Linked DNA regions of Homo sapiens: region 2 is linked to region 1. The links come from fine-mapping of genetic effects on gene expression. A gene starts in region 1. The other region holds a variant in brackets. All regions are shown on one strand. Distances are from middle to middle.

Region 1 (12,136 bases):
ACAAAACAAAAAAACCCATGAAGGCTCCTAGGTATTCACTCTAAAGAAATGGAAATTTACATTCACACAAAAACCTACACAGGAACATTTATAGCCGTACTAGCCACAGTTGCCAAAAATTAGGAATAACTTACATGTTTCCCAACAGATGAATAAGATACACTGTGGGACATGCCTACAGTGGAATTCTACTCCGCGGTAAGTGGAACAGCATACGGAGACACGCAGTTCCGCAAACGCATCGCAAAGGCCTCAGGCTGGATGAAAGAAACCAGGTTCCAAGGGCTACGAATTGTGTGATTCCACACACAACTATAGGGACGGAAAACGCACCAGAGGTTGCTGGGTGCTGGGGGCCGGAGAAGGAGTGACGACAGAGGGCAGGACGGAATTTGGGGGAATAGTCTGTATCTTGATTGATGTGGTGGTAGTCTCTGGGCTGTATGCATTTGTCAAATCTCAGAATTTTTCACTAAAATGATATAAAAATTTTATTGCATGTAAATTATACCCCAAATTTTTAATTAAGGGGGAAAGGAACTGGAAGATACAGACACAATGGACACTAAAAATGCTAATGAAAATAGGAAAAGTGATTAAGGGCTGTCTACACTCCTGTCCCTATGTCCTTGACTCCCAGCCTCTCAGCCAGACCTGGTCTGCGCCCCCCCCCCAGGCTGTTCTCCAGCACTGATAGCACCCCTGGCAGTCTGTAGGCACCAGACAAGCACTCTGTGACCTCCTCAATCCTGGGCCCCCTGAATGGCCGACACCTATGACTCCTCCCTCCTGCTTGAGCCCCACAGACCTCTCTGGTCCTTCACAAACTCCCTGGCTTGCCTCTGCCCTCTGACCATCCTGCTCACTCTCCTTCCCCCACCCCCGTCCCCTTACTTGGGTCATCCTGTCAGTAGCTGTACATGCTGCCACACCCACCTCTCCCAGAGCCCAGATCTCTCGCCCGACTGAGGTCGGTTGGTGCTGGCATCATCTCCTTTGATCTCCACCAACTGTTTCCATTAATACAACCAACCTAAGATCCAGATGGCATGCTCATGCTGCCTGTGGCTGGCTGAACCTCACAGTCTATTTCCACAGAGCTGAGCCCCAGAGTCTGCAAGTTGCTCCTTGGCAATTCTTCCCCAAGGCCTCCCTTGCTCAAGACCCTAATGGCTACTGCATTGGATCTCCCCAGCCCTCTGCCCCAGCTGAGCTGTGCTACTTGCCTTCCTTCAAATGGATGTTCATACTTTCATCCACACAGCACCCTCCACCTAGTGCACCCTTCCCTCTCCCCTCCATCTTCTCCAACCCAGCCAGCCCATCCTTGAAGACTCATGGAGCCACTCCCATAAAGCATGAGGATGCAGGATGAGGCAGAAAACTGAGGGCTTGTCCAAGGACCATGGGTGCAGAGTAGCAAAGCTGGTCTCTGGGGCAGGAAGCTGTGGCAGGAAACTGTCGCCAACACAGTTTGAGAAGCTCCTCCCCACGTGGCCGCAGGTGCAGCCTGGGTAGCTAGAAGTGGGTTAGGGCAGAAGAGGAGATGAGGGAGGCTCAGTGCCCAGCCCAGGGCTGCCATCCATGACCCGAGGCTAAGGAGTCCCAGAGGCAGGCTCTCTTCCTGTGCATCTCGGCTGCGTCCCAGCTTCCCTGTCCCACTGCCCACAAGGACAACGGTAATCACAAGCACCACCCCACACACACAGGTCGGGTGGTGGGCGCCTCCTCTTCCACCCCTGGGGCCTTTCTGGACTGTCCTCACTAGTAAAACATGGGGCCCAAGTTCCCAGGGACCCCATGGCCAGAGATGCTGGGGAGGCCAGAGAAGGTGGGCAGAGGTGGCAGAGATGAAAAGTCCGGGGGCAAGAGGTGGGAGCATTTGCCACGCAGCGGCTAGCCGGAGTGTCTGCTGTCAGTGAGCTGCACCGATCTAGAGCTCCCCGGGGTGACCCCAGACCCCAGGCAGGGGATCAAATGTTTCTGTTCTCAGCTGTGTCCCTGCAGACTCGTGGCCCTCCCAGAAGACACACCCACCATGAGACCCACCCCAGCCCTCGACCTGCCTGGGCCATCCCGACGGACAGGACTTGGGTTAGGAGCCGCGTCCCTCAGTCCCCAGTGAGCCTGTTCATTCCCCAAGCCTGGCCTATGGTTCTCCCTAGGCTGACCCCAGTCAGCTTCCTCTTGAGCTCACAGTTCAGAGATCCTAGTTTGGCCTTCCCAGAACTTACAGCCCCTGGATCACAGCACAGAGATCACAGCAGAGCAGCCACGGGGCACCTGCCCCACACTCACAGCCCAGGCCCTGGGAGGATGATGGGAGGAAGCCTTGGAGCCTGGTCAGAAGGACCTGCCTGGAATCCCACCATTCACCCAGCCTCCCTGGGTAAAGGCAGTGCTAGATTACAGCTGTTCCAGAGAGATCAGATTCCCCAAACATGCTTCAAAGGAAAAAAGAGTCAAGGGGTCAAATACAGTTTCAAATGCTGTGAAAAGCACATTAAAGGCTCCGAGAAGACCACATGGAAGGACCTCTTTCAGCGTCACTTAATTCCCACACCTATTCAGCAAAGCCTTGAAGGTCTACTGTTTCACAGAACATTCCCTGGGCATCAGAAGCCCCCATTACATGCCCATCGTCAGAGCAGAGGTATCACACCAAAGCCACTGGACCTGGTGGGAGCGGGCAGGAGCAGCACAAGCTCCACATGTCCCCCCAGCCAGAGGCTCCACGTGTCCCCCCAGCCAGAGGCTCAGAGGCTCCTCGTGTCCCCCCAGCCAGAGGCTCCACATGTCACCCCAGCCAGAGGCTCAGAGGCTCCGCATGTCCCCCCAGCCAGAGGCTCCGCATGTCTCCCCAGCCAGAGGCTCCGCATGTCCCCCCAGCCAGAGGCTTGACATGTCCCCATCCAAGGCTCTGCAGGAGCAGGGCCCCAGCCCCTCACCGCCCCACCTCCTCCTACTGCCCCCCCACCACCCTGTTCCCACTCCAGCTCCTGGCTCTCTCTCTCTGAACCCCTAGTCCTCACCTGAGACCCTAAGTCCCTCTGAAGCCATGTTCCCTGCTCCTTAATCCCCCAGCTGTGCTCGGGCCGCCTGTGCCCACCAACAGAGGCAGCATAGGCACTGGTCGTCAGCACACGCCAGCTTGGTGACGCCATGAGCCACACAGCCGCAGTTAGCCATGGCTGCAGGCTCCTCCTTCATATGTCTTTCCTGACTGCAGGGATTGGATTCAAATCATGGAATCGTGGACCCACCACATGGTCACAGTGCAGCCTCAGCAGCGAGTGAAGCTCGCCAGACCTCCTCCGGAAAGCAGGGCCAGTGAAGGTGTCCAGCACTGGGGCTGCAGGGACTCCCTGGGGTGAGACTTGCTGGCCCCCGTCATGCCATCACATCCTCTTCTCTGCTTGAAGCCCTCTAGGCTCCCACCTCACTCGGGGTGAAAATGCAAGTCCTCAGGGTGGCCCCCAAGGCCCTTCATGATGCCCATCACCACCCCCCGCCACTCACTCCCCTCCAGCCACACGGGCCTCCTCATGTTATTCGTTCAGGTCCCTCGGACAAACCAGGCATGGTGCAGCCTCAGGGCCTTTGTACTGTCTGTTCCCTCTGCCTGGAGACTCTTCCTCCAACACCTTCCACTTTATTCAGGTCTCTGCCTAAGTCACCTCCTCCAGGAGGCCTTCCCTGACCTCCCTCTCCAAAATAGCCTCTCCTTCTCTCTCTAGCCCTGACCCAGCTTTGTTGTTCTTCACCACCTAAAAGATGATATTGTATCTATTGGTGACATAGTACCTTTGTCCCTGCCAGAATGTAAGCACCACGGGAGTGGAGCCTTTGTCTTGTTCTCCTACCTATACCAGCATGGCACAGAGGAGGTGCTCAATATACCAGGTACCTACAAAGGTCTGCAGTCCACTGGGATGGGTGGGGATGCCTCTGAGCACCGGTGGAACCTGACACCTGGGAAGGGGTGAGGGGCCACAGGGGCTTCCTTGGGTGGAGGATGGCGGGAGAGGAGGGGCCCATCCTGAGGATCCTGGCCACAGGCTATTCCCTCAGCCCAGAACTGCGCTGCATCCTTCTACTGGGCCTCCGGCTTCAGGCCTCCTCCGTTGTCCCATCCTCCCAGAAGCATTCCATGAGCCCTGCCCCCTCCCCAGCCTGGGTCAGGCACCTCCCCTAGGCTTCCAGGGTCCCCATCCTCCCACATCACAGCCCTGATGGCCTCTGTCTCTGCTCCTCAGTCCCTCACCAGGCTGAGCTCCCCGAGGCAGGGCCCACGGCTCTGTCTTGTTTTCTATGGAAGCTCCTGCTTCCTCCCCACAAATATTTGTCAAGTGTGTAAGGACAATCACAACAGCCTCTGTGCTGGGGACTGCACTACCCTTTGCGAGCATTAGCCATTTATTCTAATTCTCACCACAACTACATTTGGTGGGAACTGTTATCCCACTCCTCAGCTAAAGAAACTGAGGCTCGGAGAGGTCAATGTCACTCTCAGAACATGCAGCCTGCAAGGGGCCACCAGGATTTGAACTCAGGTCTGTCCAATGCAGCAGCCAGCACTAACCACTCCAGCAAATGTCTATTAGGAGACCCTGGAGAGCTGGGCTGGTGCGGGGTCAGGGTCAGATTCCCCAACCCAGCACACTCTCCAAGTGTCTGTTGATTGAACAATGCCCTTCCACCGCCCCTCCAGTGAGGCCCCCAACTCCGGCCTCCACTGCCTGTGTGACCTCAGCAAGCAGCGGTCCCTCTCTGGGCCTCAGGCTCTGTGACTGTAAAAGGGAGATGGGAAAAGGCGGTGTGAGTCAGGAGGATAGGGGCTGATAGAGACAATGGAACAGGGTGGGACTGTCCTGGGCCTTGTAGGCTGTTCACAGGATTCCTGTCCTGGACATGCTGGATGCCAGTAACACCCGCTGGGTCACAACCCAAACTGTCTCCAGGCACTATCAACTGTCCCAGGGAGACGGGAGGAGGTAAAATTGGCTCTGATGAGAATGGCTGCCTTAACCCTGTACCTTGGGGTGGGGCAGGGAGTGGTCAGCACGGGGTGGTCTGGGTGCTGCAGCCCCGGAGAGCATACAGGAACTGTGGAGTCCAGAGCCCGAGGCCACCCAGAGCTAGTGAGGATAATGAGGGTTTTAGTGAGACCTTTCTGCAGCACCTGTATGTGCCGGGCAGTGTGGATACAGTCACTCTCTTTATCCTCCCGAGAGCCCTGGGAGGGAAGCACAGAGAGATGCGGTGACTGGTCCAGTCACACAGCTGGTGAGTGGCAGAGCCAGAATGTGAAGCCAGGCCCCCAGGCTCCAGAGTGTGCACATCAACACCACCCCCGCAACACTGCCAGGGCAGTGGGGCTGAGGATGGAGGGCAGGTGTGAAGAGGAAAAGGAAGCTCTGGATTCAGCAGGAGGCAGCTTCACAGGTGGCACCTTAGGAGTCCCTGACCCTGATCTCTCAGCAAGGCATTATTAAACACCTCCTGTCTGCCTACTGTTCCAACCAAGACGAGAGTAATGAATCATCTCGAGCTGCTCACCTCATGAACTCCTGTTCCTTCCTGTCGGGGATGCTTCCTACCTGGGACACATTTCCCAGCCTCTCGCCAACAGTCAGGAACCAGGCGCCTGCCAGGTGCCCATATCTGCATGTGCATTTAACAGATGCACAAACTGAGGTCAGAGAGGCCAAGCAACTTGCCGAGAACACACAGCAGTTGAGGAGAACTCGGTGTTTTGCTCTTTCTCTCTCCAGGTCTTCCTCTAACCTGAGCTCGCCTACAAGTGGCTCAAGCCTGCCCTGGACTCCTCACAGGAATCACAGCATTCTGCTGATGGAGCTCACGGCCCTGGTGAGCAGCCCCCTCATCTTCACAGAGTGCACATGCGCTTTCTCTGGAGGTTTCTCTGCCTCCGAGAGCCAAGGATGCAGCCAAACAGGGCCCAGCAGGAGCCCAGGGACTGAGCAGGCCTCACCGTGTCCCCTGAACAGCCCCGCTCGGCCAAGCCTCTGGAGGGGGAGCTGCTTCCCTCAGCGTGGCCACAAGCCCCGTCTGCCTCCATCTCCAGCCAGTCACCACCCAGCCCAGTCCTCCAGCTCTCCTGGTCCTCCCAGCAACCTCCTGACTCCCAGTTAATATTCTGTCTTCCTCCTCCAGACACAGCCCACCATGGAGACGGTGGCCAGGTGCCACTCCACCCAGGCACCACTTACCTGGGGACGTACAGGTGGATGTCCAGGCAAACAGGCCACTTGCGGGGTCTCTGGTCCCAATGCCAATGGAGAGCCGGTTCTGGGTGAGGAATCGGGGCTTACAAAGCCGGTTTGGATTTCCCTGCAGCCCAAGCCCCCAGCCTGAGAGGGAGGCCCTGCCGCTCACACTCTCCGCACACACCCCGGGGGAGGATGTCACACCCCGCCAGGGTTTCTCACTCATGGATGGGGGGGGTTCATCCTCTGCCAGGTCTCCCAGAGCCCCCTGGGGTGGCCCTGGTGGCAGGACACAGGCAGAAGGCCCGAGGACAGCCGCTTACCTGAATGCCCCAGCAGCAGCTCTGAGGCCCACGGTGGGCCAGGCCTGCCCGGAAGGCCTGGTGTCTGCTGAGCTCCGGCAAGCAGGCTTGTCTGAAACTAACCTATTTCCTGGATGCGAAGACAGGAAAGGGGGCTGTGTTTGATGTTTACATCAAAGTCACAAAGTGCTGTGCTCAAGGAAAATCACAGGCCACGTGCTCCAGGGAGGCAGAGGGCATTTCCGGGGCCCAGCACTGCCTGCCCAGCTGCAGGATGGGACTGAGAGATGGGAATGAGGCTAAGCAAAGGCAGGGTTTCAGGAAGGACGACTCCAGCAGCAGGAACCGTCAGAAGGGAGGAAGCCTGCATACCTGGAACCGGAGGGTAGGCAGCAGTGGTGGGAAGGAGGGGAGTCCCAGGGCTCATGGAAACTGGAATGCCCCCATTTTCCCCTCAAAGGGGCGTCGCCCTGGGGCCTGCACCAGCTAGACAACCCAGAGGAGTGATTTGTTTATTCCACAGGCAGGTTAGAGCTGGAGGGAGGAGAAACCCACTGAGTCAGCCCATACCCCGAAGGTGAGAACCCCTTCTGTGCCAGGCATCTGGATGGCAAGGACAGCCTGCCCTTGCTCTCCAGTGGCTCGCAGGCTTGTTGGGGGCAGCTGAGTCCACAGGGAGCCAGGGCTGGGAGGCCGGAAGCCTGGGCACTGTGTGTCCCCAGAGTATCCCCAAGCCAGCCTGGAGGATGTCAGGGATGCGTTCCAGGAGGAGTCAGCCACCCAACCGAGACACAGAGCCAGGGCATCCCCAGTGCTAGCCCGGCCCACCTGGGACCTTTCCCACGAAGCTGAACCTGGCTGAGTGCCATCCCGCTGTGGCCACCACCTCCTCCTCCTCTTCCTCTCCTCCCTTCCCTCACCCTGTGCACCCCCTACCCTTGGGCCTGGGGCCACACCTCATGCACTCTCTCAGAGAGGGGCCTGCAGAGCCACTCCCTCGGCTCCATCTCCCCTCTAGTGCCCCAAGGCCTCTGGGAGCCCCTTGCCCACCACCTCCTTGCTTTCTTGGGCACTAAGGGAGTCGTCACAGCTCTCCTGTCTGTGGGGCCTCAGAGACCTGTGTGGAACTGCCCTGGGCCCACTGTGGAGACTCCTAAAGCTTTTCTTCTTGGGGTCCTGCTGCCCTTGTTAAGTGGGCTTGTGATACCCTACCTTGTTTTAACCTGAATTGACTCTCCCTTAGCTAAGAGAGCCAGACAGACTCCATCTTGGCTCTTTCATTTGCAGCCCCTTACCCACCCCGCTTCCTCAAGGACTTAATTTGTGCAAGCTGACTCCCAGCACATCCAAGAATGCAATTAACTGATAAGATACTGTGGCAAGCTATATCCGCAGTTCCCAGGAATTCGCCCGGTTAATAGCACCCAGAGCCCCGGCGTTTGTGTCCGGTTGATAACGCCCAAAGCCCCGTGTCTATCACCTTGTGATAGATTTTAAGCCCCTGCACCTGGAACTGTTTGCTTTCCCGTAACCATTTATCCTTTTAACTTTTTGCCTGCTTTACTTCTGTAAGATTGTTTTAGACCCCCACCTGTCCTTTCTAAACCAAAGTATAAAAGAAAATCAAGCCCCTTCTTTGGGGCTGAGAGAATTTTGAGCACTAGCTGTCTCTCAGTCGCCAGCTAATAAAGGACCCCTGAATTCGTCTCAAAGTGCGGCGTTTCTCTGTAACTCGCTCGGTTACAACAGGCTCAGCTCCCCAGTCTGCCTGAGGATCCCCTCACACCCTACCCCGAAGCCTCCTTGGGGACCTCCTTTCTGGCCCTCTACTATCCTCTGGCCGCCTGAATCCCCTTTAGAAAATCTGAGTTCCGGCTCTAGGCTACTTTTCTCCTTCATACAGCCCCCTCCAAAATGGTGTTTGCTAGCAGCCTCCCTTTTCCCCAGCGGCATCTTGAAACTCCAGGTGCAGCAAGCATCCCTTCACATCCATGCTGGACGCTCATTTCTTGGAGTATTGAGAGAAAAAGACACCGGCACCCTGAAGAGAGGAGAAATTACAGCATCAAATCACATTCATACTACAATAATGAGAGTCGCACTGATTATGTGCCAGACATTGCTGTACGCACATCACAATTAATAAGCCATTCAACCTATTTTCCAGATAAGGTAAGTAAAGCCCAGAGAGGTTAAGAGATGCCAAGTGGCCAGGTGGGATTGCAGCCCAGGCAGCCTGACCCCACCCACGTGCTGCTGGACATAAAAGAAGAAAACTTTGGTTGTAAAATATCTCCCCGAAGGAGGCCAGCGCCCCAGGGAGCTGGAAGCTGAGCCAGCTATGGGACAGGGTGCCTCTGTGTGGGTGGGGGGCTTCCAGTTTCCAGGGTCTTCAGGTCCTGAGAAGGGGATTCCCAGCCTCTGCAAGGCACTGGCCCTACAACCCTTGAGCCCCCCACTTCCTGTCCCAGAGGCTGGTCTGGAAACTACAAAGCCCAGTGCTCAGACAGCTCTGAGATTGGGCTACAGATAATCCGAGATTGGCATGCAGATAAGGTCCTCTGTTCTGCCAGAGTGGAAGGAGGTGGATGCATCTTTTGAATGTTTACAGTAAAGGGCAAACGGATGGAAATGTGGGCTAGGAAAGTTGCGGTGCCTTTGCCTCATCGGGTTGGGGTAAACATTCACTCTACTCATGCCAAGAGCCTCGAAGAAATTCATCAGTCACCCCCATATCCTCAGGTCTTTGCCCACACCTCTTCACCTGCCTATTTCCTAGTCCTCTTTCAGGTCTCCAATTAAGCGTGTTTTCCTCCAGGAAGGCTTCCCAATCCTCAGACCGGGCAGGGATGGGCTTTCTGTCCATTTCACCTGGAGCTGAGCAGGTCCAATCTGGCTGCACAGTTAAGAGAACACAAGCCACTGCTGGGAGACGTGCAGCAGGGAGATAGGGTGGAGGCTCCAGCAGGCCCGAGAGGAGATACACCCCAGTGCAATGAGCCCCAAAGGAAACAGGTCCATCCAGGGCCCCTCCTGGATTCCCTCTGGGTGTACAGAAAAATGGTGACTTTTTTTTTTTTTTTTTTTGAGACGGAGTCTCGCTCTTTCACACAGGCCGGACTGCAGTGGCGCTATCTCGGCTCACTGCAAGCTCCGCCTCCCGGGTTCACGCCGTTCTCCTCCCTCAGCCTCCCAAGCAGCTGGGACCACAGGCGCCCGCCACCGCGCCCGGCTAATTTTTTGTATTTTTAGTAGAGACGGAGTTTCACCGTTAGCCAGGATGGTCTCGATCTCCTGACCTCGTGATCCACCCGTCTCGGCCTCCCAAAGTGCTGGGATTACAGGCGTGAGCCACCGCGCCAGGCCAAAAATGGTGACTTGTATCTCCTTTCCTTCTGGTTCTTTTCTGGTTCTGCCACTTAACCCTGAGGGACCGTGAGCACGTTACTTAGCCTCTCTGCGCCTTGGTTTCCTCCCTTAGGAAACGGGGATAATGGTACCTGTCTTGTAGGCTGTTGTGAAAGTTAAAAGAGGCCTAAAGGCAAATGCTCCATTACTGCTACCACCACCGTCATCTCTCATGTCTAGTGACTGCGCGTCCGAGTGCAGCAACGGGATTCCCTTGCGCCCTCCAGGGGCAGCTCTCCAGTATTGCAGGCTGCCAAGCACAACTCAGGCGTCCCTGAAGGCTGAAAGTGACCACCGCCCTGCCCTGAAATAAAAAAAATTAATCCAGCTGGTTTAAGTCAGAAAAGAATTGCTTGACCACAGCAGCCACATGCTGTGCTCTCCCCTGGGGGCTTCTCAAGTGGATGGCTCCTTCGGAAGCCTTCAAACTGCCATGGCACTGCCACCTCCTGAGACCCCTGGCTACTTATTTATTCAATACTGAACACCCGTTCTATGCCAGACTCTTTTCCGGGTACTCTGTTCTATGGATCCGCAGTGAACAGCACATGAAAATCTCTTCCCTCATGGAGCTGACATTCTAGTGGGAGAGACAGAGAATGAACAAAATAGATAAATATTTCATAGAGTATGTCACATGGTTACAGGTGCTAAGGAGTAAAATAAATCAGAAAGGGTAGGCGAGGTCTTGAGCATGTAATTTTGAGCCAGTCAGGGCATGCCTCGGAGGGGATAACCTGTGAATCAAGACTTGAAGGTGGCTCACGCCTGTAATCCCAGCACTTTGGGAGGCTGAGGCAGGCAGATCACAAGGTCAGGAGATCGAGACCATCCTGGCTAACGGTGAAACTCCGTCTCTACTAAAAATACAAAAAATTAGCCGGGCGTGGTGGCGGGCGCCTGTAGTCCCAGCTACTCGGGAGGCTGAGGCAGGAGAATGGCGTGAACCCAGGAGACGGAGCCTGCAGTGAGCTGAAATTGCGCCACTGCACTCCAGCCTGGGTGACAGAGTGAGACTCCGTCTCACAAAAAAAAAAAAAAAAAAAAAAAAAAAAAAAAAAAGACTTGAAGGAGATGTAGGAGAGAGCCACGGAGATACGGAGATATTGGGGGAAGAGCATTCCCAGCAAAGGTCTTAAGCAGGACTGTGTCATCTGTGAGGTAGGAACTATCTTGTTCCCAGCTGCGACCCCAGCAACTGGAGTGGTACCTAGCACAATAGTACTCAATAAATATTGCATGGATGGGTGAAAAAATCCCACATATGCGCTTCAGGAACAGCTTGCTCTGGGCTCAACTGATGACCCCAAGGTTGTTGGCTTCATTCTCAGACAAGGTTTCTCCCTATGGTCCAAGAAAGTCACTCAGCTTCAAATCCTATTCAAGGAGCAAGAATCTATTTCTCGATATTACCGGAAAAACCCCCAGCACAGCTCATTGGCTGAGTAGATCACCTGTCCATCCCCCAGCCAATCCCTGACGCCAGCGGATGGCATGGGGACGTGGCTTAGGACCAGGTCACATGCCCCACCCACAGCACACTCTGGAAGGAAGGAGTGGCTGGAAGGAGGAGAAGGGATGCTGGGTGGGCAAAGCGCTGAAGTCTTGCAGAATATTCATAACAGCTTAAATGCATCTATTTCTTTCTATCAAGCACGACTGCGTGCTGGCCCCAGCTAAGGTACATTTAACGCTCACAACAGCCCCAGCGAGTAGTAGATTAGCCTCATTTTACAGATCTAGAAACTGAGACCAAGAGGAAACTTAGGCTTGAAATTCCACAGCTAGCAAGTGGGGAGCCTGGGACCTCCTGGCTCAAAGGGAGCTTGGAGCTTCCACAGGGCTCCACCCTGAAATCCCCTGTGCTATCAGGGTGACTGCCGTCATCCAGCTAGGGACAAGCAGGCTGAACCAACCCTGAGCTAAAGCTGCAAGGCCTTAGCGTGAAGGCAAACTGACAGCGCAAAGGCAGCCACCTCTTTGATGAAGAAAGGGAAATGGAAATGCTAGTTCAGGGCAGCTCCCAGGGGCCCACAGGCCATGCGGGGACTGTTGGCAGAGGCTATAGGCGCTGATAGGGCTTGTTCCTCAAATGCAAGCCCAGGGTAGAGGTAGGAGGCCAGCAGAGGGGTGGGCTGCCTCTCAGGGCTGGGGTCCCAAGAAGTTGCCATGAGGATGGGACAAGGGTGCATGTGC
Region 2 (12,136 bases), 27 kb before region 1:
CATTTTTCCTTTACCTTTTTTTTTCTTTTGGAAGTGCTATCTCATTTGCATTTCCCTAATGATTAATAATGTTGAGAATCTTTTCATGTGCTCATTAATGAGTCAATGGTATGTCTTAAAGAAATGTTTGTTCAAATCCTTTGTCCATTTTTTACTTAGACTGTCTTTTTATTGTTGATTTATACAAAGGTCTTTATATAAGTTGGATGTTAGATTCTTCCCCAATATATGATTTGCAAGTACTAGGCCCATTCTGTGAGTTCTCTTTTCAATTTCTTGATACACTTTTCTTGTACAAAGAGTTTCAATGTCATGAAGTCCACCTTCTCCATTGTTTTCTTTTGTTGCTGGTGCTCTTGTGTCTTAGTCTGTGTGTGCTGCTGTCAACAAAATGCCTTAGACTGGGTAATTCATCAACAACAGAAATGTATTGCTCCCAGCTCTGGAGGCTGGGAAAACCAAGATCAAGGCCACTCCTGTCCGGGTGTGTCACCAGCAAAATCTGCCAAGCCCTTAACCTCCTCTGAAAGTTCTGCTCACCTCCTTGCTGAAGCCAAAACTTAAAAACACAGGTCTATAAATTGTGGCATAGACAACGTTGGTTGTGCTTGAGCAAGAGACCTTCCATTGTATTTTAATCCTCACTGGACTTACAGAGAGTAACTGTATATTTTGTGGCGGTGGTGGGTTTTTTTAAGCTATTTTTAAAATTGTAGTAAAACATATTTAATAATATTTGTCATTTTAACTTTCTAGGTGCACAATTCAGTGTCAATTACATTCACAGTGTTGTGCAACCATCACCCCTATCTATTTCCGAACTTTTCCATCATTCCCAACAGAAACTCTGTAAACGTGAATCCATGATTCCTCATTGCCTACTCCCCCCAGCTCCTGGTAACTTCTATCTGCTTCCCGTCTCTATGAATTTGCCTGTTCTAGATATTTCCTGTAAGTGGAACCATACGATGTTTGTCCTTTTGTGTCTGGCTTCTTTCACTAGCATATTTTCAAGTTTCCTCCATGCTGTAGCAGGCAAGAGAGTTTCCCTCTTGTTTCAGCTGGATAATGTTCCATCAGCTGGATAATGTTCCATGGAATGTATACACCTCATTTTGTTTATCCATTCATCATTTGATGGACATTTGGGTTGTTTCAACCTTTTGGCTATCGTGAATGATGCTGCAGTGAACATTGGTTTACTATTATCTGAGACCTTGTTTTCAATTCACTGGGGTGTATACTTAAAAGTGAACTGCCGGGTCGATGGTCAGCCCATGTTTAGCCTTGTAGGGAAACATCAAACTGCTTTCCACAGAGGCTGCACCATCTCACATCCCCACCCACAGTGTGTGAGGGTTCCAATTTCGCCACACCCTCAGCAGCCGTAGTTACGGTGTGTGCACACGGCCATCCTAGGAGGTGTGAGGTGTGGCTTGTCACTGTGGTTTTTATTTTCATTTCTCTTATGATTAATGAAGTTCACATTTCATGTGTTTGTTAACCATTTGTATAGCATCTGTGGAGAAATGTCTGTTCGAGTCTTTTGCCCAGTTAATTGAGTTGGATATTTTTTTGTTGTTGGATTGTAGGAATTCTTTATGCATTCTAAACACTAAATCCTTATCAGATAAATGATTTGCTAACATTTTTCTCATTCTCTGGGCTACCCTTTGATGATGTCCTTTAATTTAAAAATTAAAAGGTTTTTTGGCCAGGCACAGTGGCTCATGCCTGTAATCCCAGCACTTTGGGAGGCCAAGGCAGGTGGATCACCTGAGGTCAGGAGTTCGAGACCAGCCTGGCCAACATGGTGAAACCCCATCTCTACTAAGAAGACAAAAATTAGCTGGTCATGGTGATGGACACCTGCAATCCCAGCTACTCAGGAGGCTGAGGCTGGAAGATTGCTTGAGCCCGGGAGGCAGAGATTGTAGTGAGCCGAGATTGCACCACTGCAGTCCAGCCTGGGGGACAGAGCGAGACTCCGTCTCAAAAAAACAATAAAACAAATAAAAATTAAAAACAAAAAGTAAAAGATTTTTATATTGATCAAGTTCAGTTTATCTATTTTTCTTTTATTGCTTGTGCTTGGAGTGTTATACCTGAGAATCCACTGCGAAATCCAAAAATATTTACCTCTTTGTTTTCTTAAGAGTTTTACAGTTTGGGCTCTTATATTTAATATTTAGGTCATTGATCCATTTTAGTTAGTTTTTTTATATGTGTGAGATAGAGGTCTGACTTTTTGTTTGTTTTGTTTGTGGAAATCAAGTTGTCCTGGTACCATTTGTTGAAGGGATTATTCTTTACCCCAATGAACAGACTTTGCAGCTGTGTCACCTTCCCTGGATCCTTCCCTGTTATTCTCTGTTCTCTTTTTCAGACCATGGAGAAGCTCTCCTCCCTCTGGCCCATGAAACCTTTCAGGAATTTGATGGATCAGCTATCACATTCCCCTGGCCCCATCCCCAGTTTGCTTTCCTCCATGGAAGGAAGTAATATTTAATAAGCAGCTACTAAGTGCTAAACTAATGCATTGTTTCACTTCACATCACTACTCAGAAAGGTAAACACAGTTATTATCACCATGTGACAAATGAGAAGACTGAAGCTCCCCAAGGTTAAGTAACCTCCCTGAGGTCTCACAGCCAGACTGCAGAGTCCAGGGCCTTGTCATATTATACCGAGCTAATCTGCCAGTTTTGGTTTTTTTCACTTCGTCCACCAGAACAAAATTTTGAGTTTATTTAGCGTGTCTACAGGGTAGAGGCCATTCTCCCAGCTCTCTGAGGAAGAAGGTGTCCAGGGAATGCAGAGCTAGCAATGAGTCAGAGCTGAGGGGAGCACCGGGCCAGGGCCTGCCGAGGAGCGGGGAGTGGATAGGGTTTCGCTGGGTTCAAATTCTCCCTCCTAGCTGTGTGGACTGGGGCAAGTCAGGCCACCTCCCTGAACTTCCGGTGCCTCATCTGTGAAATGTTTACAGATGGTGAAATTGGACTTTCATTCAAGATGGCAGACCAAGTACACATAGAAACCATTCTTCAAACACTTAGCAATGACAGGAAAATACCAGGTATACAAGAGACCACTGCAGAGATGCCCAGAGACAAGGGTTGAAGCCCCCCACCACCTACCCATTAGGAGGCTAGTACCAATGCAGGGCCCCCTAATGTATGAAGCCAAGAGCACAGGCTCTCATATACAGCCCTTACAAGATACACATGCAAGAAATATTCTGAAGAGACAATGGATTCACAACCACTTCATGAAATTTCCACAAACTCCCCAACTGGAAGAATTTACGTCTGAGGAAATAGAGAATAATAGTGCAACCTTAAAAGAATTTTGCAATAAATATATTAAAAACTCAAAGAGATAAAGAAGGGAATAACAGCCATAAACAAGAACAGGAGGCCGGGTGCAGTGGCTCATGCCTGTAATCTCAACACTTTGGGAGGCCGAGGCGGGTGGATCACCTGAGATCAGGAGTTCAAGACCAGCCTGACCAATATGGTGAAACCCTATCTCTACTAAAAATACAAAAATTAGCTGGGCATGGTGGCGGGTGCCTGTAGTCCCAGCTACTCAGGAGGCTGAGGCAGGAGAATCGCTTGAACCCGGAACGTGGAGATTGCAGTGAGCCAAGATCGCGCCATTGCACTCCAGCCTGGGCAACAAGAGCAAAACTTTATCTCAAAGAAAAGAAAGAACAGGAGACTATGAGACAAAAGCAGGCAGATATAAGAAAGAACCAGGAGCTCATATGTGAAAAGTTTCATTGCTAGAATAAAAACTCCACAGAAGCGGAAGTGGAGAGCCAGAGGTGGGAGGGATTTAACAAGGCCACATGGGATTTTAGTGGCAGCCACGGAGCCAGAACCAAGGCCTAACTCAGGAGTTTGGTTCCGAGGAGGATGAATGTATGTGCTTTCTTCTCCCTTTTTTTCTTTCCCATTTCTCTCCCTGAAGTATAAGGTTGGTGCTGAGCTGAACACCACAGCCCCTTCCTAGATGAGAAACAGGGCTTCCATGCCTTGATTGGGCAGGGTGGGACAAAGAGTTTTGCCTCAAGATGGAGAGCTAACAACCTCTGTCCTCTAGAACATGAATTAAACAGAACCTTAATGTCTACAGAGGAGTTTGTTAAATGAAGCCCAGAAAAGCTGCCAATAGAGTTGCCTCTTACATATTGGCCTTGGGATAGTGGGCATGTTGGGTCTGTAAACCAAGTCCTCAGAGCCTTGGTTTCCTCAACTGTAAAATGGGTTCAAGAGTCCCCACCCCAGGCAGATGTTTTGAGAATTAAACAGGAAGTTGTGTGTTCGAGGCACCCAGCACATCAGAATTGCCTCCCACAAATACCTTCCTGGGGCTTCACAGCCCTCTAATTTGAGCTCAGAGATACCTCAGACAAGGACAAAGCTACAGGCACATGGGACCCCAGCCTCCAACAGAGAAGAGAGAAATTTGAAACCCTGAAGGGACAAAAGGTGAATGGAAGCAGAACAGGAAACTGATTCACCATATCCTCACCCATGTGGCCACAGGGCAGCCTACGCCCTTGGCCTTTTGCTCAGAGCAGAGGATGGGGCCTGAGAAGGTGCGAGCTCTGTGCTGGGCATGAGGCCATGAGACGTTCACAGCAAGAGGTGGCATCTGTCAAGCTGGCGCACATCTGAAAACACTGCTCAACTTCGCCACTTACAAGAGAAATGCTAATTTGTCTTAATTTACACAATAAGATATTTTTCCCATCTAAAATTAAAAAATGTTTTTAAAATGGTAAAACCCAATGCTAGGAAGCCGTGGACCTGGTAGATGGAGATGTTAGTTGCTTCCTGGCCAAGGAGTCAGGAAATATGAAACAAAGAGGATGTTACTGACCTCCCATCTTGATCACCGCACCAGGCCTTGCGTTTTCTTCCCATTTCCAAACTCAGCCTTCCAGCCCCGCCAAAACCTCTCTTTGTTTCCAGAAGGACATTCTCTCCCACTACACACTATTCCTGCTCCCTGGGATACTTTCTTTACGGTCCCCAACCAAATGTCACTCACCCTTCAGAACTCAGCTAAGGCGTTCCCTCCTACAGGAAGCCCACCAGATTGGCCCCTCTCAGCTGGCTCAGGAGCTTCTCTGGACCTCCAGGGCCCAGTGGGCTGCCACCATGCCAGTGGTTATCACCCTGAGCCTGTGTGCCTCATGACACACGTCTGGAATAGGCACATGATCAATAGAGGAGGAGTGAGATATTTGGAGAAGAGGTGTGCTCTGTATGGTCTTGGAACGGTAAAGGGAATGGGGGTCAAGGTTGGTGTCAGCAGCTGGAAAACCTTTCTAAGAATTGTAACTCACTTACCAGCCCAGGCTGCGTTGAGAGGTAATGGATGAGCTGCCCATCACAGGAGGTGTGCAAGCAGTGATCAGAAACTGCGTCCCTCAGCCCCTCTCCTCCATACCCAGGGAGCCTGGGCGGGGAGCTTTCCTAGCGGACATCACCCGGGAGGGAACGGGGAGCTTTCCTCGGGGACATCACCTGGGGGGGACGGGGAGCTTTCCTAGCGGACATCACCCGGGAGGGGACGGGGAGCTTTCCTAGGGGACATCACCCCGGGGGACGGGGAGCTTTCCTAGGGGACATCACCGGTGGGGACGGGGAGAGCTTTCCAGGCAGCGGCAGCGGTGAATGCAGAGGCCCAGAGGGGAGTCCGCGTGGGCGCTGGAAACCCTGGAGGAGGGTGAAGGGGCTTGGTCAGAGCCGCCAAGAGAAAAGATCCTGCAAGCACCTTCCAGGGGACTGTTGGGAAAAAGCTGAGTGTTGGGAGGGAAACTGAGATGGGGCTTGCATGACTGAAATAATGGCCTCTGGAACGTGTCTAGACTTGCTGGCTCCTTGCTTCTAGCCTTCCTAGGCTCCTAGATCGATTGTATTCCCATTATCTCAAGTAGCAGAACATGTTCCGTAGAAAAGCTAAACCATCACAGCTGTAAATCATGTGCTTAATGCAACGTGTCCTTTTGACAGCCACATTCTCACCACCTGTTTCTTTGTTGGATTACAAATAAATACCGTGGGCTCCCAGAGCTCAGGGTCTTCGCAGCCTCCATGATGGCGATGACCCCCTGGTGTCCCACTTTTATCTCTCAAACTGTCTTTTTCTCAATCCTTTGACTCTGCCGGACTTTGTCACCCCCACGACCTGGTGTTGGGTCTGATCACCCCAACAGGGGACAGGAATGGGGACCTGGAGGTGAGGGCCTGAGGTCGTGCTGCTAGCGGAAAAGGAGACGTGCAGAGGTGAAGCAGGCAGTGAGGGCGGGATTGACCCCAGCTGGCCTCGGCCTCTGGAAACATCGCCACCTGGAGAGTGCTCTGCGGAACTGCACCCTCTTTCGTTGGTTCCTCAGCGGACATCTCTGGTGGGTCTGTTAGCGTTCCCAATGTACTTGACACCCATTTTTTAATGCCTCCTTCTTATAAAATAAGATTACTTTCATCAATAATGATGACATGAAACATAATGATGACCAAAAGGCAATGAAAGCCACAATTCATTTACTGTCTGATATATTTTACATAATGTAAGTCGTTCAGCGACTCACAAATGAATTTTAATAAAACTGAACTACCTGCAAACCACGATTTAAGAAACCACTAAATTGATGCAATTTGTCTTAATTCGTTCATTAGCTTTTAAAACAATTAATTTAAAAACAATGTTTGCATTTTGGTATTTTTCAGATTCAAATTCAGTAATACGGTTCATACGGGAGCTAATACGTGCATCTACCAATGAAAAGCATTGTATCTCATGATTTGCAAGGCACCCCTGGGGGGGTGAAGACCCCAGCTGGATGGGGGAGGGGGGGTTAGCGTTTGTTAAAATAGCTCCAGGTGATCCTAACGTGCACCTGGCATGGGGCACACTCATCTCCACACAGGGGAGCTGGGCTCAGCCAGGCACGCAGCCCTTGGGCCCACACCCGCCTGGCCTCAGGTTCCCCACTCCACCCCAGCCGCTCACTCACATGAAGGTGTCCCTAGGGTGGAGAGTGGGACCCAGCCCCATCTTCCCAGGGGTCACTTCCAGGCTCAGTCCACACAAGAACAGTCACCTCCATGCACTTTTCATAACCCACCCCTCCCCTGACACCTACCCTCACCCCGGAAAAGATGAGGGCGCTCAGACAAGAGGGAAGCTGGGTTTATTCTGGTGATCTACGCCTGACCACCTGAGGATGCCCAGGCTCCAATGTCAGGG[C/G]CCAGGGGAAGGCATCCGTGTAAGCAATGCCCTCAGCTCAGGGCCCTCCGGGAGCCACCAGCCCAGGACAGGCTGCACAGCCGCACCCTCCCGGACCTCCCTGCTCCCCAGCCAGAGAGGACAGGGGGCCAGGCAGGCAATGCAAGGCCGGTGTGGCCTGAGACACCCCCTACCACAGCCCAGCTGTGTGTGGAGACAACCAAGCAGGGCTCAGCCAGACTGCAGGACCTGGGGTGGGGCTGAGGGTGGGGAAGAGCCGGCGTGGAGGGCTCCCCTGGGCAGCGGGAGCTCAGGCACAGGCAGCCTCAGCCTTCTGTGTGCTGCCTGGGGGCCCTTCCACCTTGCTGGCCAGGCTGTAGTAACAGGCTCGCATGCGCTGCTCCACGGTCAGGAAGTCGGGGCGATCCTCCCACCTGTGGGGCGTGGGGTACATCCAGGCTGCTGACCACGCCCCCAGGACCCAGCTTCACCAGTGGGTGGGCATGCACTGTGCTTGGCTGAGGTAGACTTTTGGGGCTCAGAAAGTCAGCAGGGCTGTTGGGGTGGCGGGACATTGGGTGGTGGAGAGGACTCTGGGGTGTGAGAGCGTTGGGCAATGCCACACAGCCTAAGGAGGCAGAGCTGCCCACACACAGGGTGCTGGGATGACCCCTCTACCGAGCGTTGACCAGTGAGGACTCAGGGGACTGAGTGGACTTGGTGTCAGAGTGGCAACTATTGACCACGGGGACCTGGGATATAGAAAGCTGATGCTCTGTGCATGCACCTGGGGCCAGGGTATCAGTGTGCTGGGGCTTAGATGAGAGGGAGTGCAAGGCTGGTGATCAGCAGAAGCCTGGAGCATGGCAGTGGGTCTGGCCAGCGGGGAGCGGCAGTATTAACGGTACTGTGCATGGGGTATCCATGGACTGTGTTGGGGTGCTAGGTGCTAGCCTCTTTGGGTACTGGGGTGTGGTGCCCTGGGTGTTTCCTGATGGAGGTGGAATTAACACATGTCGCAGGAGGGTGGGCCAGCCAGAGAGGGTGTCTATCTGTTGGGCTGCTTGGGTGTTGGGGTGTCAGCATGCTAAGTGCTGGCCGGTGGGGGGTCATGCGTTACAGTGTCCACACATTGCATGGGCAGTCTAGGGCGTCCGCTTGTCTGGGGGTGTGTTGCCTGTTGTCTGATGGGAAGTTGGGATACTGATGGTGTTAGGAGTTGAGATGTCTGAAGGTTGGGCTTCAACCAGGCAGAGGTGGGGGCTGGAATAGATGAGTATTTGGTACCTCAGTGCTCACCTGTCTGGTAGTTGGGTGCTGTGTGCTGGCTGGTGGGGACTGGAGTGTTGGGTACTGGAGAATCATCTCATGCCCTGAGTGTCAGTGTCATAGGTTGAGTAGCAGAGTATGGACCTGTTTGCGTGTTGCAGGGTCCATGTGTTGAGTGATGGCTGAGGTTTTAGATGCTGAGGCACAGGCCCACAGGTGGGATGGCAGGGTGTGGCACACTGGAGCAGGACAGCAAACCCTGGTGTGTTGGAGAGCTGGGTGTGGGGGTAGGGGGCAGCTGCAAAGGCTATGAACTGGGTGAAGGGCTTTGGGTGAGATGACATTGGGTAGAGTTATATTGACATCAACTCATCGGGCACCAGGACTTTCCAGGGGTCAGCCCAGCCGGGTCCCCTCCCCACTGGCACTCACTTGTAGATCCAGCAGTCACTCATGAGTGCGTACAGTTCGGGTGGACACTCTGGTGGGCACTCCATCCGCTTGCCCTGCTCGATGAAGGCCATGACCTCCGGCCCTTTCATCTTCTGCTCAAGCCGGGGCAGAGACACCTGTGAGTGACCAGTGTCCTCCTCCTCATCCCCCTCCCCACCACACCGCCCACCTGCCTCTGCCCGCGCCTGCCTTGTAGGGCTTCTGGCCGTAGGACAAGGCCTCCCACATGGTGACCCCATAGCTCCAGACATCGCTGCGGCTGGAGAACTTGCGGAAGTTGATGCATTCGGGTGCGTACCACTTGAGCGGCCACTTCCCTGCTGAGCGGGCCTGGGGAGGGGGAGATGCTGCTGGATCAGGGGTCAGGGACCCTCTACCCACCCAGCCCATCCAGTCGGGCATCACAGGGGCAGAGGCTTACAGTGTAGTAGCTGTCGTCGGCACCCAGTGCTTTGGAGAGGCCAAAGTCGCTGATCTTGGCGTAGTGCCGGTTAACCAGCAGGACGTTGCGGGCCGCCAGGTCACGGTGCACAAAGTTCTTCTCCTCCAGGTACTTCATCCCCATGGACACCTGGTGCAGCAGCTCGGCCACATTGCTCACAGGGATCTCCTCCCTGGGGTGGCGGGGAAGGCGGGGTCAGCTGGGAGAAGACTAGCCAAGTTCCCAGGGGCAAAGCATGCTTCTCTGACCCAGCTGGGCATGAGCCAGGTGACCATGTGTTCAAAAACGCTTATTGAGCACCTGCTGTGTGCCAGGCGTGGGGCTGGGGACACAGCAGTGAACAAAACAGGCAAAACTCCTGCCTTCATCCAGTCTCAAGGCTTTAGGGATCACCCACACGCTACGACTCCCAAGTCTAGACCTATGCCTGCACCCTCGACGTGCTGAGGTCTCACAGGCATCTCAAAGATAATGTGGCCTGATTGTCCCCATCCCCATGTGCACACACATATGGCTCCTCCACTGTCCTCTCCAGCAGCTCCTCTTTCTCTCACACCCAATCCATCAGCAAACCCTGGCAGTTCTGGTGTCAGAATCTCTCCAGAATCCACCGCACTCCTCATCTCTGCCTCTGCCACCGGGAAGCAGCCGCAGCATCACTCACCTGGACCCCCAGGCAGGAATAGTCAGCTCCGCCCAGGCCCTCGCTCCCTCCTGTCTCCCACTGTCTTGTCCTCTCTGCCCCTGAGTCAGGTCCTCCCCCTCCTCTGCTCACAGCACCCCCTAGCTCCCACCCAACTCAGGGTAAAACTCCAAGTCCTCCTGGCAGCCCGCAAGGCCTGGCACGGTCTGCTCATCCCCTCCCTGCCCGCACCACACGAGGCACGGGACCACCTCAGGGCCTCTGCACAGGCGGTGCCCTTTGCCTGGAATGCCCTTCCCCACGTCTGGGCATGGCGGCCTCCCTCAGTTTGTTCAAACCTCCCTGCTCACTGCACCTCGCACCCCAACACTCCCAACCCCCTGGAGCTGCGGCAGGCTTGTGCCCACCACACTATCTTCCCACATGCTCTAGATTTCATCAGGATTGTTACTTACTGTCTCTCTTCTCCAACCAGAATACAGAGCATGGATCTCTGCCTTGTTTATTCGCTAATGAATCCCAAGTGCTACTAACAGTTCCTGTCACTGAGAAACTGTCCAATAAACACCTGTCAAATGACTGAATGTGGGAGCCAGGGGCACACTGGGAAGGTGTGTGCACCAGCCAGAGGGCACAGATCAGCAAAAACGTGCCTTGGGGAGTGCAGAACTTGTGTCTGTGAGGGTAAGAGTTTGGGGATGAGGAACCACAAATGAAACTGCAAAACTTTTCAGTAAAGGGCCGGATAGTAAGGATTTTAGCCTTTACAGGCCACAAGTGATCTCTGTCACATCTTCGTTTTTGTTTCTTTAAAAAAAAAAAAATTAAAAATAGAAAACCACGCAGCACGTAAACAAAGGGCAGGTTCCAGATAACTGGCAATGGGCACTTTCCCAGGGGCCATGAATTTGGCCCAGGGAGTCTGGGGAGCAGCTGATGTGTACAAAGCTCTTACTAGCAGTGCCCTTTATTTATTTTTATTTATTTATTTTTTTGAGATGGAGTTTCGCTCTGTCCCCAGGCTGGAGTGCAGTGGCACAATCTCGGCTCACTGCAAGCTCCGCCTCGTGGGTTCAAGCGATTCTCCTGCCTCAGCCTCCTGAGTAGCTGGGAGGCGCCCACCACCACGCCCAGCTAATCTTTTGTATTTTTAGTAAGGACGGGGTTTCACCATGTTGGCCAGGATGGTCTGGATCTCTTGACCTCATGATCCACCCGCCTTGGCCTCCCAAAGTGCTGGAATTACAGGCATGAGCCACCGCACCCGGCCCTAGCAGTGCCCTTTATAGGTGCCGACTCATTCGATCCTCGCAAAGGCCCTGGAGGTAGACACTGTTATTACCGCACTGGTGCAATGGTGGACTGAGGGTTAGCTCTGCTTTGCAGGCATGGGTATGGGTGTGGGTGTGCAGGCTGAGAGTGTGTCCACGATGGTGTGGAAGTGCCCCGGCTTCCCACACACGCATGCACGCGGGTGCATGTCCACCATGCCCAGGATGGGCCCCGGCCCCACCCACCCGATGGCCGGGCCCACCCGGTGCTCACCTCTTGCCGACCAGGAACTTGTGCAGCGGCCCGCCCCCAGCCATCTCCATGACCAGCATGAGGGCCTCGGCCTGGCAGACGCCAATGAGCCGCACGATGTAGGGGTTGTCCAGCTGGTGCATGATCTGCGCCTCGCGCATCATCTCTTCCGTGTCTGCCTTCTCCGTGCCCTGCTTCAGCACCTTGATGGCCACGTCGATCTGCTTCCTGCCCGACCCGGCCACGGGAGGCACGTGGGCGAGGGGCACCGGCCCTGCTCGGCCCCACACCCCCACCCACCCATCTCTCTTCTCCCTTGAGTTGTGTGGTAGACAACTGTAGTCGCCACCCAGGCTGGGACCAAGGCGCTCAATGTCCCTGCAGCCTGGAGCGTCTGCTGAGGACGGCTCACAGCCGGATCGCTCACCGGGAACAGCCCATCGCCAAAAAGAATCCAAAGTGACACCCTCCCCAGGGGCAGCCTGTCAGGGGCCAGTGGACTCAGGGATCGGGGACCCCACTGCAGCTCCCCTGGGTTGGGAACTTCAGCTCCACAGCCTCCC

Evidence for each region. PIP is the estimated chance that this variant, and not a neighbour inherited with it, causes the effect.
Region 2: its variant is the best candidate, but not a certain one, in a credible set for the expression of ZAP70 in whole blood (INTERVAL, PIP 0.77).

Annotation. Positions count from the first base shown.
Region 1 is chr2:97,708,092-97,720,227 of GRCh38, reverse strand. It overlaps ZAP70 (zeta chain of T cell receptor associated protein kinase 70), which reads right to left and starts at 6,652. Exons shown (of 14, transcript NM_001079.4): 1 at 6,554-6,652; 2 at 6,234-6,312. RefSeq lists enhancers at 1,244-1,393, 3,609-4,123, 4,124-4,639, 5,871-6,844, 11,932-12,136 and a silencer at 8,818-9,007.
Region 2 is chr2:97,734,915-97,747,050 of GRCh38, reverse strand. It overlaps ZAP70 (zeta chain of T cell receptor associated protein kinase 70), which reads right to left. Exons shown (of 14, transcript NM_001079.4): 10 at 11,595-11,801; 11 at 9,386-9,578; 12 at 9,154-9,294; 13 at 8,944-9,056; 14 at 7,191-7,676. The coding sequence ends at 7,553. Among named protein-coding and RNA genes, the nearest start is that of ZAP70, 27 kb to the right of the region's middle. RefSeq lists a silencer at 1,301-1,410 and an enhancer at 6,992-7,491. The variant C/G (reference allele first, on the strand shown) is at 7,264.